Regions from separate parts of the Homo sapiens genome. Here region 1 is reported to be linked to region 2. The links are microRNA targets in miRTarBase. Many come from high-throughput screens and were not tested one by one. Region 2 holds a microRNA gene; the other region holds the end of a gene's coding sequence.
The links. Region 2 holds the annotated microRNA hsa-miR-449b-3p (CAGCCACAACUACCCUGCCACU, at 1,792-1,813, shown strand). A microRNA usually pairs through its seed, bases 2 to 8, with sites in the 3' UTR of a target mRNA and lowers its output. Matches are read on the target gene's strand: a 7mer-m8 pairs with bases 2 to 8, a 7mer-A1 pairs with bases 2 to 7 and ends in A, and an 8mer does both.

Region 1: miRTarBase lists TCF24 as a target of hsa-miR-449b-3p. Seed matches in the 3' UTR shown: 7mer-A1 at 547-553.

The regions. Positions count from the first base shown.
Region 1 is chr8:66,945,567-66,948,566 of GRCh38, reverse strand. TCF24 (transcription factor 24) reads left to right here. Exons shown (of 4, transcript NM_001193502.2): 4 at 403-2,066. The coding sequence ends at 516. Among named protein-coding and RNA genes, the nearest start is that of TCF24, 16 kb to the left of the region's middle.
Region 2 is chr5:55,169,480-55,172,479 of GRCh38, reverse strand. MIR449B (microRNA 449b) reads left to right here and starts at 1,738; the gene lies at 1,738-1,834. The region is part of intron 2 of CDC20B (cell division cycle 20B); the gene reads left to right. It overlaps MIR449A (microRNA 449a), which reads left to right and starts at 1,858; the gene lies at 1,858-1,948. MIR449C (microRNA 449c) reads left to right here and starts at 127; the gene lies at 127-218.

The DNA.
Region 1 (3,000 bases), not on the chromosome of region 2:
CATATACTAAAATTGGAACTTTTAAAAATATTTTTAAAGCCCAGGATCTAGTTTTAGTCTTAATTTTGTTTTAGGTTTAGTTTAAAATTAAAACATTACGGGCAGATATATTTTTCTACACTTTAACTATATTTATTTTTCATGATTTCTTGCAGTTCTTGTCCATAAGCACACATATTACTTCTAAAATGTTAATCAAAGTCTGAGTATATTTTTGTTTTTTACTGTTAGCATTAATAAACATTTTTTCTTGTTGTTTCTTATACTTCATACTTATAATTGTTATTAGCTACATAATATTGCATTTGCATTGGGCTATTTACAATCTTTAACATTGTAGACCATGTTAATATATGTCATAGATACTAACTTTTGAATTCTTGTTGAAATAATCTTTTTCAGAAATGGCCCATGCGATCAAGATTGTACATCGGTGCTACTGGTCAGTTTCTGAAGCATTCTGTTTCTGGAGAAAAAACAAATCATGACAACACTCCAACAGACTCACAGCCTTAGGCTCTCCCCTGGTGGGGGCTGGTAGAAGTGGTGGCTATTGTTTTTAAATACTATGACATAATTCTATATTTATTATATGAGACATAACAAAATTTCTGAAAGTTTACATGTGAACCCATAGTTGGATGTTCAGGTTTATCTGTCTAAATGTGGAATGAAATAATCAGTGTTATATAAAACACACAGCTTATCTGTTCAGTGTGAGAGTCACTACTATATAGTGCAAGAGAAATTATTAGAAAAAAGTCACATGAAAGCAAACAATTGTGTATATAGCTAAAGAATGCAATATAGATATTGCTATAGTGTATCTATTACAAACAGAAAAGTTCATATCTATTGGTGCAGTCTTCCTAGTTTAAAAAGATAAAAATCTGTGTTTATAATATACGAGTATTCCTTTTTTGTGAAAACCATACTGTTCTTAAGTTGATCTAAGACACCATTTCAATTGAAGAAAACTGTTGCAGTAATATGAAGATGCAATAAATTCAATAAGTAGTTACTTTTCCCTCTTAGAAAACTTGTTTGGAGTATTAGAAATGGTTTGCTCAGAGGACAGGGCTTGGTCACCTTCCTAGAGGGTTATTCTGTATCTTACAGTGTTTGCAACTTGTGGAAGGCACTGGGAATCCCTGCAGTCCAGTGTGAACAGGAGACCAGGTGTCAGCGGACAGCAGAGTTCACAATGTAGGTGCATGTCACCACACCTGGCTAATTCTTTTATTTTTTGTAGAGATGGAGTCTCACTGTGTTGCCTAGGCTACTCTTGAAATCCTGGCTCAATAAATCCTCCTGCCTCACCTACCAAAGTGTTGGGATTATAGGCTAGAGCCACCGTGCCTGGCCCAGTTTTATTGTTTTAATGTGAATATACTCATAATGTGACAGAAGCATATCTTTTTGCAAGAAAGATATATAATAGTTCTCTACATATTAATATGTAGAAAAGTACTTGCATATTTAAATATTTGTAAACATATTTACCTACTCATGGAAAGAAATAAAAAGTAAAATGAGATTTGGATTCAGCCATTCACTATTATAAGTTATTGACATAAGAAGTGCTAAAAAGAATCTTTATCCTAAGGAATGAAATCAAAACTTCTTCAAAGTTACCTCAAACTGAATTGTAAACACTAAATTTAACAGCAAGAATTTCAGAAAAATGATTTTCTTGCTAATAATTCTTAAGATTTATTAGTTTGGCTAGTTTTTAAAGCATTTAACTGGGGAAAAAACTATGTGTTGAATAATTAGATTTCTAAGTCATCCTGTTAAATAGTTAGTAGAGCTTTGCCTTTGATGGTATTACTTTTTAATTCTTCTCATCCAGTTACAAGTTGTATTAATGCCAAAGAAGTGTATTTGTTACAGATTTTCATAACATTTTATTAAATTGCTAGATATGATGATAGGTTTTGGTATGTTTACAGAGGAGAAATTGCATATTTTCACTCAGATTCAAAAGAGCATGCTCTTTTAATGCTTTAATGGTGAATGGTCATGATAAGAGGTATTATAAAAATAAAGTACTAATTTGAAAATTAGTCTGTTAAATTTGCGTTTCTCTCTTTGGATATTTAACAAACACCGAAGCTACTTTTGAAAATCTTTTTAGACGATAGATACCTACTTGGTGTTAGCTTCTTTTTTACCGCGCTTTTTTTTTTTTTTTTTTGAGACAGAGTCTCACTCTGTTTCGCAGGCTAGAGTACAGTGGCACAATCTCCACTCACTGCAACCTCCACCTCTTGGGTTCAAGCGATTCTCGTGTCTCAGCCTCCTGAGTAAGTGGGACTACAGGCATGTACCACCATGCCTACCTAACTTTTGTATTTTTAGTAGGAGACAGGGTTTCACCATGTTGGCCAGGCTGGTCTCAAACTCCTGACCTCAACTGATCCGCCTGCCTCGGCCTCCCAAAGTGCTGGGATTACAGGCACGAGCCACGGCACCCAGCCTCTGTTGTTTTTCGAGATGGAGTCTCACTCTGCTGCCCAGGCTGGAGTGCAGTGGCGAGATCTCAGCTCACTTCAATCTCCACCTCCCAGGTTCAAGCGATTCTCCTGCCTCAGCCTCCCAAGTAGCTGGGATTACAGAGGCGCGCCACCATGCCCAGCTAATTTTTGTATTTTGGGTAGAGATGGGGTTTTGTCATGTTGCCCAGGCTGTTCTCAAACTCCTGGCCTCAAGTGATCCACCCACCTCAGCCTCCCAAACAGCTGGGATTACAGGCATGAGCCACCACTGAGGAAATAATCTAATACAAAACATCTCTTTACAGTGGCCAACATGATTCACTTAGAAATGAACACGTGATTTATATTTGTTATCATGACATGATAAGACAAGTGGCTTGTTGGCTCCATGTATAATTGTATTGTTCTTATTAGCTGGCAGGGAGAAGAAACCACAAATCAGACTGCTTCTGATCTCAATTTATATATTAGATATTTTGAGAGATGGCTTAATCTAAATGCT
Region 2 (3,000 bases):
GAATTTTAGTATCTTATTACATACTAAAAAAAATTTCTTTATGAAACTGAAGATCCCAGACAAATAATGCAATCGTTTGCATCTGAATCGTACTTTCTAGTTTCTGCCTCCACAGCAAAGGATAAAGCTGGGATGTGTCAGGTAGGCAGTGTATTGCTAGCGGCTGTTAATGATTTTAACAGTTGCTAGTTGCACTCCTCTCTGTTGCATTCAGAAGCACGCCCCCCAAAGAAATGGAAATGGTGCCATCTTGTGGACAATGTGGAGAAGTGGCATAAACCATGGTTCTTAACGTGAGCAATTTAAAGTTGATCCAATGTAGTACCTGTTCTCCTTGAAAGACCAAACCCAAAGGTCTTTAGTGTCTCCTGTAATCAGTGTAAAAGGAAACAAATTTAAATGGTTTTATAAACGTGTTTCATAAAGAGCCTTCATCTGCTTTAAATCTCTGTCACCATTTACCATGCTTCTCTCTAGGCTCAATAGTTCATCTTCCTTTGACCTGTACGCAGAGATTCTAGTTCCAAATCCACCACCATTTTAATAGATTTTTCTAGATCTTATATAAATTTTGCAACTAGGCACTGTGGCTCATGCCTGTAATCCCGGCACTTTGGGATGCTGAGGCAGGAGGATCACTTGAGGCCAAGACTTCAAGACCAGCCTGGACAACACAGGGAGACCTTGTCTTTATAAAAAAACTGCAAAAATTAGCTGGGCATGATGACATGTGCCTGTAGTCCCAGCTACTTGGGAGCCTGAGGCAGGAGGATTGCTTGAGCCCAGGCGTTCAAGGCTGCAGTGAGCTATGATTGCACAACTGCACTCCAGCCTGGAGGACAGAGCCAGACCCTGCCTCTTAAAAAAAAAAATTCAGTATTCAAGTGGTAACATCCTATATTGAATACATAATTGCATTTTCAGAACTCGATTACTAATGTCATTTCTAGTAGGAGAAAACTAATTGCATTTAAGCCCTTACATTTCTTAAATACTTTAATGTTGATTTTTTCCCCCAAACACTGCTGCAGTTTTGTGTCGTGCACAGCTTATGTATTATCACGACTCCTAGATATTTTACTGTCTAATACAGACAAGTAGTCTTTGGATCAGTAAACAGAAGTGATTTGAAAAGCTATAGTTAAGTAACTTTTTATTTATTTTTTTGAGACAGAGTCTCACTTTGTTGCCCAGGTTGGAGTGCAGTGGTGCAATCTCGGCTCACTGCAAACTCCAGCTCCCGGGTTCAAGTGATTCTCATGTCTCAGCCTCCTGAGTAGCTGGGATTACAGGCAGCACCACCACGCTGGGCTAATTTTTGTATTTTTAATAGAGACGGGGTTTCACCATGTTGGCCAGGCTGGTCTTGAACTTGTGACCTTAGGGGATCAGCCAACCTTGGCCTCCCAAAGTGCTGGCATTACAGGCATAAGCCACTGCGCCCAGCCTACAGTTAAGTAACTTTTAAAATTCATTTGTACTGTAGAACATATTTTTATCCAAGCATTTAATTTGGAAAACCTAAATGTAAGTATTCTGAAAGTTTTAAAGTTTTTGTTTAACTTTTATGTTTTTGACTAGATTCAAGCAAATATTGATTTTATTTCTTATAGTCTTGAAGTAATACATTTTGTGTATAAGTTTTCTTTAATGTGACTATTAAGATTAGAGTTCTGCCACTATGTTTCATGTTACAAATTTAGCCTCAGTGACTGCCTGGGCCACGAGAATCGGCAGTGACCTGAATCAGGTAGGCAGTGTATTGTTAGCTGGCTGCTTGGGTCAAGTCAGCAGCCACAACTACCCTGCCACTTGCTTCTGGATAAATTCTTCTTGTCAATGAAGTGCTCTGGATACCTGTGTGTGATGAGCTGGCAGTGTATTGTTAGCTGGTTGAATATGTGAATGGCATCGGCTAACATGCAACTGCTGTCTTATTGCATATACAATGAACATCAGAGTGTAACTGAATCTGTAATTAGTGTGTGTTTATGTGTACTTTCTGCTATGAAGCAAGCCACTATTTACCATAATATATTATTGCCATTAGCTTATAATACAGTAATACTTACAATGCACAGTTTTATAATGGTAAGGAAAGTATTACAATTACTTAAATTTTTTCCTTTTAAGAAAAATTTACTTATGCCTGCTTTTCCATAACTAAAAATTTTTAAGAAATATTTTTGGAGTCTTTGGAGTCTTTCGGAGTAGACAGTGTTTAAGTATTTATGAAATTACATGTTTTTAACTATAAGGTTTAGAATGTAATAACAATGTGGAATGGACCTACAATGTGTCCCCAGATTTTCAGTGAAGTCTTTAGGATTCTTTCTGCATTATTAGTTTCTTTCTTTTTTTTTTTTGAGACGGAGTCTCGCTTTGTCGCCCAGGCTGGAGTACAGTGGCGCGATCTCGGCTCACTGCAAGCTCCGCCTCCCGGGTTCACGCCATTCTCCTGCCTCAGCCTCTGGAGTAGCTGGGACTACAGGCGCCTGCTACCATGCCCGGCTAATTTTTTTGTATTTTTAGTAGAGACGGGGTTTCACCGTGTTAGCTGGGATGGTCTCGATCTCCTGACCTCGTGATCCACCCGCCTCGGCCTCCCAAAGTGCTGGGATTACAGGCGTGAGCCACTGCGCCCGGCCTCTGCATCATTAGTTTCTAAATACAGCATTAGAATTGGTTTCTATAGCCATGACTGTGTGTGTACCAACTGAAGGGAAAGTTGAGGTAATTTTCCAGATGAGTCAGTCAACTAAAACATTTTTCACTTGAAATATCAAGAATATTGGGGATTTTTTTTGGGTGGGGGATGGTTTACATTTTTTTGGAAGATCTACCTCAATCCTTTCACTTCATTTTCTGTAAAATCACAGGTTCATGAAATATTTGGAAGACAGCATGAGATCTAACAACTTGTGAAGTGGGAAGAACTGACCATACAATATGACCTTAAATATATTCTCATTACCTTGGAGGCATTTTGACCCACGAAGT